Linked DNA regions of Homo sapiens: region 1 is linked to region 2. The links come from fine-mapping of genetic effects on gene expression. A gene starts in region 2. The other region holds a variant in brackets. All regions are shown on one strand. Distances are from middle to middle. Region 1 overlaps CANT1 (calcium activated nucleotidase 1). Region 2 holds the start of CANT1 (calcium activated nucleotidase 1).

Evidence for each region. PIP is the estimated chance that this variant, and not a neighbour inherited with it, causes the effect.
Region 1: its variant is fine-mapped to the expression of CANT1 in T cells (TOPMed, PIP 0.93).

What each region holds. Positions count from the first base shown.
Region 1 is chr17:78,987,122-78,992,448 of GRCh38, forward strand. CANT1 (calcium activated nucleotidase 1) reads right to left here. Exons shown (of 5, transcript NM_001159773.2): 5 at 4,595-5,327. Among named protein-coding and RNA genes, the nearest start is that of LGALS3BP, 9.9 kb to the left of the region's middle. The variant G/A (reference allele first, on the strand shown) is at 2,320.
Region 2 is chr17:79,006,637-79,012,009 of GRCh38, forward strand. CANT1 (calcium activated nucleotidase 1) reads right to left here and starts at 3,128. Exons shown (of 5, transcript NM_001159773.2): 1 at 3,028-3,128. RefSeq lists a silencer at 2,848-3,227 and an enhancer at 3,468-3,517.

The DNA.
Region 1 (5,327 bases), 20 kb before region 2:
AAAAAATGGTGGGGAAGAAAGTGGTGAAAGCAGACACTCTTGCGTTGTTCCTCAGGGGGAAGGCATTCAGTGTCTGACCGTGAAGTAGGAGCTTAGCTGTGGACTTCTCACCGGAGCCCTTCATCGGGTTAAGGATGTTCCCTAACGGGTTTTTTGGCTTTTTGTTTAGAATTGGATTGGGTGAATGGCTGTTAGATTCTGTCAAATGCTTTTTCTCTATCTTTTGAGATTATCATGCTTTTCCCCCTTTTTAGTCTTTTTTTTTTTTTTTTTTTTTTTTGAGATGGAGTCTCGCTCTGTCGCCCAGGCTGGAGAGCAATGGGATGATGTCGGTTCACTGCAACCTCCGCCTCTCAGGTTCAAGCGATTCTCCTGCCTCAGCCTCCCAAGTAGCTGGGACTATAGGTGCGCCCCACCACCCCCAGCTAATTTTTCGTGTTTTTAGTAGAGACGGGGTTTCACCATGTTGGCCAGGCTGGTCTCGAACTCCTGACCTCAAATGCCCACCTCAGCCTCCCAAAGTGCTGGGATTACAGGCATGAGCCACCACACCCTGCCCCTTTTTAGTCTTCATATGAATTTCATTGATTGATTTCAGAATACTGAACTAACCCTGTATTCCTAGAATAAACCACACCTATCGTGAAGTATTCTTGTCAGAGACGTTTGAACCAGAGCCACTCCATCTTGAACCAGGTCTGGGTAAATTACGGCTGAGACCTGCTGGGCTGCATTCCCAGGAGGTTAAGGCATTCTTAGTCACTGGAGACAGAAGGTTGGCACAAGATACAGGTCATACCTTGCTGATAAAACAGGCTGGCCGGGCGCAGTGGCTCACACCTGTAATCCCAGCACTTTGGGAGGCCGAGGCAGGCGAATCGCGAAGTCAGGAGTTTGAGACCAGCCTGGCCAACATGGTGAAACCCCATCTCTACTAAAAATATACAAATTAGCAGGGTGTTGTGGCGCACGACTGTAATCCCAGCTACTCGGGAGGCTGAGGCAGGAGAATCGCTTGAACCTGGGAGTCGGAGGATGCAGTGCGCTGAGATTGTGCCACTGCACTCCAGCCTGGGCAACAGAATGAGACTCCATCTCAAAAACAACAACAACAACAAAACAGGCTGCAGTAAAGCCGGCTAAAACCCACCAAAATCAAGCGGCGATGAGAGTGACCTCTGGCTGTCCTCACTGCTATGCTCCTGCAAGCACCATGATAAATGCCATGGCAACATGAGGAAGTTACCCTCTATGGTCTAAAAACGGGAGGCATGAAGAATCCACCCCTTGTTTAGCATATCCTCAAGAAATAACCATAAAAAGGGACAGTCAGCAGCCCTGGAGCTACTCTGCCTTTAGAGTTGCTATTCTTTATTCCTTTACTTTTTTTTTTGAGATGGAGTCTCACTCCATCGCACAGGCTGGAGTGCAGTGGCGCGATCTCGGCTCACTGTAACCTCCATCTCCCAGGTTCAAGCGATTCTCCTGCCTCAGCCTCCTGAGTAGCTGGGATTACAGACATGCACCGCCACGCCCAGCTGATTTTTATATTTTTAGTAGAGATGGGGTTTCACCATGTGGTCAGGCTGGTCTCCAACTCCTGATCTCGTGATTTGCCTGCCTCAGCCTCCCAAAGTGTTGGGATTACAGGCGTGAGCCACCGCACCTGGCCTACTTTCTTAATAAACTTGCTGTCACTTTACTCTATGGACGTGCCCAGAATTATTTCTTGTGTGAGCTCCAAGAACCCTCTCTTGGTGACCTGAATCAGACCCCTTTCCGGTAACATTCTAATTTTTGATTATTGCTGAATTTGGCTTGCTAATCTGTGCTAAGGATTCTTTTTTTATTTTTTATTTTTATTTATTTTTTTTTTTTGAGACGGAGTCTCGCTCTGTCACCCAGGCTGGAGTGCAGTGGCGCGATCTCGACTCACTGTAAGCTCTGCCTCCTGGGTTCATGCCATTCTCCTGCCTCAGCCTCCCGAGTAGCTGGGACTACAGGTGCCCGCCACTGTGCCCGGCTAACTTTTTTGTATTTTTTAGTAGAGATGGGGTTTCACTGTGTTAGCCAGGATGCTCTCAATCTCCTGACCTCGTGATCTACCCGCCTCGGCCTCCCAAAGTGCTGGGATTACAGGCGTGAGCCACTGCTCCTGGCCAGGATTTTTACATCTATGTTCATGAGGGATACTGGTCTGTATTTTTTTTTTTTGTAATGTATTTTTCTGGTTTTGGTATCAGTATAGTGGTGCCCTCATAAAATGAGTTGGAAAAGTTTCCCAACTCCCAGAATCATGGAAGATTTTGTGTTGCTTTC[G/A]TATTATTTCTCCCTTACATGTTTGGTACAATTCAAAAGTGAAGCCATCTGGGCCAGGGGTTTTCACAGTGTGACGGTATTTTATTTTTGCTTTAACTCTTTTAACAGCATGAAGGGATAACTTACCTTGAGATTTATCAATTTAAAGTGTACCGTGGGCCGGGCGCGGTGGCTCACACCTGTAATCCCAGCACTTTGGGAGGCCGAGGCGGGCAGATCACAAGGTCAGGAGATCGAGACCAAACTGGCTAACATGGTGAAACCCCGTCTCTACTAAAAATACAAAAAATTTGCCGGGCACGGTGGCGGGAGCCTGTAGTCCCAGCTACTCGTGAGGCTGAGGCAGGAGAATGGCGTGAACCCGGGAGGCGGAGCTTGCAGTGAGCCGAGATAGTGCCACTGCAGTCTGGCCTGGGCGAAAGAGCGAGACTCCGTCTTAAAATAAAATAAAATAAAATAAATAAAATAAAATAAATAAAATAAAATAAAATAAATAAAATAAAATAAAATAATAAAATAAAATAAAATAGTGTACCATGGCTGGGTGCAGTGGCTCACGCCTGTAATCCCAACGCTTTGGGAGGTCAAGGCGGATGGATCACTTGAGATCAGGAGTTTGAGACCAGCCTGGCCAATATGGAGAAACCCCATCTCTACTAAAAACACAAAAATTAGCCGGGCGTGGTGGCGCACGCCTGTAATCCCAGCTACTTGGGAGGCTGAGGCAGAAGAATTGCTTGAACCTGGGAGATGGAGGTTACAGTGAGCCAAGATCGTGTCCCTGCACTTCAGCCTGGGAGACAGAGCAAGACTCCATCCCCCCAAAATAAAAAAAAGAAAAGAAAAAAAGTATACTGGAATACAGGATTAACACGTGGAATGAAAGAAACTGAATCTCGTTTTTTTGTCCAGTTGAGGTGACTGGAGAGTCTTCCATTTGCAGATGAGCTGTGTGCCGGACCCATGAGTGTGGAGCCGGCAGTCACTGCCCCACGAGTCCCGCATGTCACAGCTTCTTAAACAGATGGTCAAGAGCTTACATGCGGTTCCTTATCCCAACCCGCCGCGGCCCGATGCGCCCTGGCTTTTTCTGGAACTGTTGTTCTGTGGATCCTCGCCGAGAACGCCCAGTTCTCCTTGCTGCTCAGTCATGGAGTCTCTCTGGGGACCCCGCTGCCGCGCTGGTCCTTCTGCAGAGGCCGCCTCCCTGCAGCGCTGTCTTGGTCAGGCTCCCAGCAGGAAAAGACGACACCCGAATGAAGATCATCTAAGGAGGCTTCAGTGAAGGGACCATTTACCACGGATGAGACAGCAGGGCGTGCGGGCGGCACGAGGGGCCGCTGTAGCATCTGGAGCTGCTAACAGTGGAGCTGTCACTCCCATGTCACACTCCCAGGCCAGAAGAGACCAGGGGAGGGGACTCAGCCCAGACACTGGGAGTGGCACCAGGGGGCTGCCTTGAGAGGCGAGTGCCAGAGAGAGTCAGGGACTCCCCAGGGGCCATCCCAGAGGGCACTGAGGAGGTTCACTGGGTCTGGGACCCGGAGGAGGCGGGGAAGGAGAGTGGGTCTGAAGGGTAAGGGGTCGATGTGGGTGCAATTGCCCTTTCTGATTCCGCTCTCCCGGTTTTCTGTCCCTCTCTGGCCGCCCCTGTCCTGTCTCTAGTTGAGGTCTTTCTTGGCCAGTGCCTGCCTCCCTGGCGCCTGTGGTTTCAGTGATGGGGATTCTTCCATGCGTCACTTGGAGCGACCTCGTCTGTTCCTGTGGACTCACTGACACACTAAAGACACCAGCTCAGCCCTGACCTCTCACCTGAGCGCCTCCTTACCAAGTCATCCAGATGGCTCCCCAGGGATGAGCAGCAACAAAACGGGCACGTGGGTGCCCAGCACACGTCAGGTGATGTTCTAAGCCCCTTGCGCGTACCCAGTCACTTACCGTTCACTGCAGCCCCGGGATGAGCTCTGCGATGAGCATCCTTTTGCAGACGAGGACACTGAAGCACAGGAAAGTTAGGTCATTTGCCTAAGGACATGCAGCTGGATGGGGACAGAGCCAGGATCGGGCTTGCAGTGGCTTCAGACCCCACCTTTCTGACCACAGCGCTCGTGCTCTTGGAGCGCCTTGAGATAGTGGGACAAGGCGGACTGGAGGACGCAGTTTCCAGATGGGATGCCCTGGCGGGCGACTCCCGTGCGCATGCCCAGCATCCTGCGCAGGCGCTCTCGTGGCCAGGCCTCTGCAAACAGTCAGCACAGACCGGGAGACAGAAAACTACACTCCCTCAGACGCTTTATTGTTTACAAAACAGATGGATCCCATAGGGAAGGAACACAATCATTATGCTGACAGCAGCGAACAGAGAGGGGAAGAAAAAAGGTGAGCTTTAAAGTAATCGCAAATCACTGCCTATGCGAAGAGGCTGCTTCCGGGCACCTGGGCTGTGACTCAGGTGCTGACATGAATACATCAGCAAGGTCTCAATTCAGCCACAGTCCCAAGTCCCCCAACCTTCCTGATTGCATCTCTATTTTAAATGACCCAGCCTGGACATCAAGGACAATGATCTAGGAGGCGGGTCAAGGAGACAGCCAGGCAAAGTCAGAACAGACTTGGGGCTTCCAGGCTATGCCCGGTGACAGCTGAGCTCTTCAGAAATGCGTCACATTCAGCGTTCACTTCCTTCGCTTCCTCCACTACCTATGACATAGCGGGGGAAAGAGACAACCATGAGAGAGGGGTCCCTCCTCGCTGCCCTCCTCGCAGCTGTGCTTGAGTTTCAAAGGGGGAGAGGTTTGTGAGGGACCGGCACAGGGACAGCCAGAGCCGGCACCCTCCGGCCCACCGTGGCACCCCTGACGATCGCGGGGTGGGGTAGGAGTGAGGGTGGGGGTCGGGGTGAGGTAGTGCTGTGGGGAGGGCACTGTGAATGATGGAAACGTCCCTTCTCAGCCTGGGTCGTGCCTAACCTGGGTCTCAAATCCCACTCTGCCTTCACCCTGGAGTAC
Region 2 (5,373 bases):
AATTTGTATCATCGATGTTACACCTGGAGGAATTTTAGCCAAAAGGCGACCTTCTCAGTTGAAAGGCACATTCCAAATGGCACCACACATCTGGGAAGGTGTCCTTTTCCAGAGTGTGTGAAAATAACGGGATGGGATCATCGCCCCATGGACCTGGATCAGGGCTGCCTTCCACACCGCGGTGGCACCTGCACGAGCCCACCTGCTTACTGCCACCTTCTCTCCTCACGCTTTCCTCCAGGCTCGGCTCCCGGGACACAAAGGCCGAATCGCCAGGACTTTCACTCAACCCGGCAACACCCTCAGAGCCATTCTGGGGGGTCCCAGTCTCACCTCTGCCCCACTCCCACATGGTGGCATCACGCACTGTCTTAAGTCTTAAGCCAGACTTCAACGCCTTCTTCACTTCCCATAAAACCATCCCAGAGGAACGCGGGGAGCAGCGTCCTGCCTGGGAACCAGGCGCTCCACATGACCACTGCACGCATGACAAAGACGAGCAGGGTCCAAAACAAAAAACAGAACGTCTCCCCAAACAGACTTCTCTACTGCCAGGATGATTTTTTCCTAATTAACCATCTTGATTAAAGTAAAAGGAAAATCAACATGAACATTCTTAAGAATTAATATAAAAGTTTCTAATTCCCTTGATATTGGCATTTCATAAGAGCTTTCCAGGAAATCTCGATAGTTCAGAGTGCACTGAGTGAAAAGAATGAATGCTGTGTGTCCTTGGCATCCCTGGTACCATTCAACAAACAATAGAAAAATGACCTCCTTGTGATAGTACTGACCCATTTCAGGACCTGGACAATAGTTCCAAGTCTCAGATCTTCTGTTTTTGAAAGAGAAAACACTACAGCATTTATACATCTACCTATCTACCTATACGGTTGCCAGAAAGTACCGAGACTCCGAGGACGGGCCATATGTACTTGGGGGAGCCTGCACAGGCACACACACCTCGAAAGCCACATCCAGGTGGCAGGGTAAAAACACCCACAGGGCCAGGAGAACTGCTGCTACCACACCCTGGGTCTCCTCACGTACTCTGCAGCTCAGGGGGGTCCTGCAGACCAGGTGCACAGTGACGGGTGAGTGAAAACGTTCTGGAGTACCAAGAGCTTTTACACCAACACATTTACTAAGCTGCCATGGGCTAGGAAAATATGGTTATAGCCTAAGGGGAAGAAAGGAGACCTCTGGCAATCAGAAGCGTCAAGCCTCAGATGTGCCCCTCCAGCGAGGTGTCCCAGGGTCCAGGGGTCCTATCCCGCTGCGAGTGGAGGGTTCCCTCTACCACCTTGTGACATGTCATTCTCTTTTGTGATCACGTTAATTTGGACATGAAAAAGTGACACTAGAAGTTGGTCCCCACACTGCTGCGGTGGCCTCATGACAGTGCCTGGACAAATCCATGCTTCACCTGAGTCCTGGCCGTGAAGATGCCTGGGGCTGCCCCGACAGGAAACCCTTGCCACGTCCAGAGGGGAGAGGGTTGGCTCCTTCAGTGTGCCTTTCAGCAGGGGCGTGTGCTAGGATAGAGGGCTCATTGAGGCCAGCAGGGAGGAGCACCTGGGAGGAGCCCCACTGCCGTTCCACAGGCTCCAGCCAGACTGTCCTGCTGAGAGGCCTGCGGTGGGGCTGCAGGGAGGGTCTGTGGTCCAGGCCTGGAGGGACCTTTCTCAGCAAAGCTCCTCAGAGGGAGAGGGAGGAAGAGCTGGGAGATAGCGGATCCTGAAGGGCTGCGGCACCCGCTTCCTTTTAGGAGCCTTCTACGACCTGACACTTGTTTCAAGTTTGGGCCCTTACACTGGAGAGCTAGCCGGATTCACTTGACACCAAGAGCCTCACATTTCCAAACCTCTGCTTTGTTGAAAATGTGGTAGGAAAGGCCATAGGGCATACAACCTCAAGAATAAAATAAGAAATGGAGCTGGGACACTAAGAGACGGCTTTTCCAGGGGTCACTAAGGGGGAAAGGTGTTTGGGAGAGAGATGTGTCTGCTGATGGAAGAGTGGTCACAGGTGCTCTGTGCCAAGCCTAGGGTACACAGAGGGCAAGGGAAAGACCATTCGGAGGGAGAAGCAAAGGCACCAGGCAACATGGACTGGCAAGGAGGTACCAGTCTCCAAGGATGAGAGAATCCAGACCGGATGGCAGTAGGGGTGTGAGACAGGTATGGTGGGGAGGGCGAATCATTTGCATGCAGGAAGATGAGAGTGAGCTGTGTGCCTGGAGGAAGGCTCCAAATTGGATGAGGGCAGGGAGAGCAAGGACTGGGATGGGGTGGGGAAGGTTGGCCTGTTACAGGTTTGACCAAGTGCCAGTCAGAGGGAGAAAATTCCCTTATCAGTCCAAGGAGACCCTGCATAGACCAGAGGAGGGGTATTTGAAGTCAGAAGGTGGTGGGAGGGGGTCATTCCCAGGAGGGGTGCCCCACACTAGCCAGAGCGGGGAGGCGTCCCACACTAATCAGAGGGGGATGGTCCCCACACTAACCAGAGGGGGAGGTGCCCCACATGAATCAGAGGGGGGTGGTCCCCACACTAATCAGAGCGGGGAGGTGCCCCACAGTAATCAGAGGGGGATGGTCCCCAAACTAATTAGAAGGGGGGTGTCCCACACTAATCAGAGCGGGGAGGAGTCACATAATCAGAGGGGGGAGGTGCCCACACTAATCAGAGGGGAATGGTCCCCACACTAATTAGAGAGGAGGGGTGCCCACACTAACCAGAGGGTAATGGTCCCCACGCTAGTCCCAGGGATGAGGTGTCCCAAAAGTCAGAGGGGGTGGTGTCCACCGCCTGTCGGAAGAAGGGGACTTTCCCACAGGTCAGAGGGCAGAGTCCCAGCCCAGTCTGCGAGTCAGGGGGCAGAGATCCCGCACGGGTGGGACGGGAAGGGGGCCTGACGGGTCAGGGGGCGGGACGCGGCAGGGTCGGAGGGCGGCGGCAGGCTCCGGGACGGGGGTCCGGGCCCGTGGCTGGGGCAGGGCGCCGGCGGCCGCGGGCGCAGTCACTCACCCGCTGCGGGGCTGGCTCCGGTGCCCGCGATCGGCGGGGCTTGGCTGGGCTTGGCTGGGCTTGGCTGGGCTAACGGCCGGGACGGAGGAAGGTGGCCGACTTCCGCCCCGCGCGCGCTCGCCCCGCCTCTGGGCCCGCGTTCCCGGCAGCCTCTGCTCTGCGGCTGCGCGCGGACGGCGCGAGGGCTGCTGGGAGCTGTGGTTTGTGTTTTTTTGGGTTTTTTTTTTGTTGTTTTTTTGTGTTTTTTTTTTCCGTCCTGCGCCTGCGCGCTGGAGGAGCGGCCGGCTGGCTGCAGGCTGGAGGGGCGCGAGGGTCCGCACTGGCACATGAGGGCCGTCTTCCACCGCGTTGCGCTGGAACGTGGGCCCAGCAGATCTTTTGGGGTGGGAGGCATTGAGGGGGGTGAAGGCTACTAGGGAGGGAAGTTCTCATTCTCCGAGCGAGGGCCCCCTTACATGGGCCTCCCGACCCTCGTAGTCTTGGGAGGCGGAAAACCGTGGGCCCCTTTCTGCCATCCTCATTCTCAGGCAGCCCCTCTCCTTGGCCCTTCAAAACAGCCGCCTCCAGAGTGCTGCTGACCAGTTGCCAAAGCCAGGATCAGGGAGGTCTAAGGCTGTAGTGTCCTGGGGTGGGGACGGTGGGGTGTTTCCCTGCAAAAAATCTGCAGTTGACAAACCTGCCAAACAAGGGTCTCTGATTTCTCCTTTCCCCTCCGTAGCCCTAGCCCCCGAGATATTTTAGGGCACTCTGTTAAAAGGCTTCCCCGGCCCCGCCCTCCTCCATCCCAAAGTTCTGAGAAAGGCCTGGTGGCCGTGGAGCCTCTGGCAGGAGAGCTTGGCAGAAGGGTGCACCAGCCCCCTGCCCATCTGCACCTTCAGCTTTCCTGCTTGATACCAGCTACTTCCCCCAGCTCTCTCAAAACCTTCCGTTCAGTAAAAGATACACAAGAGGAGGAATTCAAATTATATAAATGGTACGCAATGAAAAATAAGCCTCCCATTGCCGTTCTGTATTCCCTGCCCAGAGGCGATCACTAGATGTTATATGGTATCCAAACAAGTCATAAACACGTATCTTAAATTACCTTTAACTAAATAGAAATGTGCTAAACACTGTTATGCACTTTTGGTTTTTGATTTTGGAGAGGAGACAAACCTTTCTTGAATTCATTAATGTTTCTTGTCATGCTAAACTGAGTCCCAACCATGTCTCACATAATACTCATTATTGTCAGGCCTCTGAGCCCAAGCTAAGCCATCATATCCCCTGTGACCTGCACATATACATCCAGATGGCCTGAAGCAACTGAAGAACCACAAAAGATGACATTCCACCATTGTGATCTGTTCCTGCCCCACCCTCACTGATCAATTGACCTTATGACAATACACCCTCCCCACCCTTAGGATAATGTACTTCGTGATATTCCCTCACCCTTAAGAAGGTACTTTGTAATATTTTTCCCACCCTTGAGAATGTACTTTGTGAGATCCACCCCCTGCCCACAAAAAATTGCTCCTAACTCCACCACCTATCCCAAACCTATAAGAACTAATGATAATCCCACTACTCTTTGCTGACTCCTTTCTCGGACTCCGCCCACTTGCACCCAGGTGAAATAAACAGTCTTGTTGCTCACACAAGGCCCGTTGGTGGAATCTCTTCACATGGACGCATGTGACAATTATATTTGAATCTTTTATTTTCTAAAAGATCCACATGTGCCTTCCAGCTTAAGAAATAACACATTATTCCTGCATCTTTAAAACTCTCCAGGTTCTTCCTGTTCTGTACTCCCTGCTACCCCCAAGAGGTGGTAGCCACAATACTGAATGTTGTGTTAATCATTCTGTTGCCTTACTTTATAATTTTAGCACATAGGTATGTATCCCTAAACAATATATTGTTTAATTCTGTCTATTTTAACCTTTATAAAATGAAATAAAACTGTATGCAATAATTGAGAGATCCAGTGGCTCTCTCAGAGGCCTTCGAACCAGAGCAACACCATCTTGAATAAGGGCTGGGTAAATGAGACCTGCTGGGCTGCATTCCCAGGAAATTAGGCATTCTTAGTCACAGGATGAGATAGGAGGTTACAAGATACGGGTCACAGAGACCCTGCTGATGAAACAGGATGCAGTAAAGAAGCTGGTCAAAACCCTCCAAATCCAGGATGGCAATGAAAGTGACCTCTGGCTGTCCTTGCTGCTAATTATACCCTAATTATAATGTATTAGCATGCTGAAAGACACTCCCACCAGCACCATGATGATTTACAAATGCCATGGCAACGTCAGGAAGTTACCCTAGATGTTCTAACGGGGAAGAACCCTCAGTTCCAAG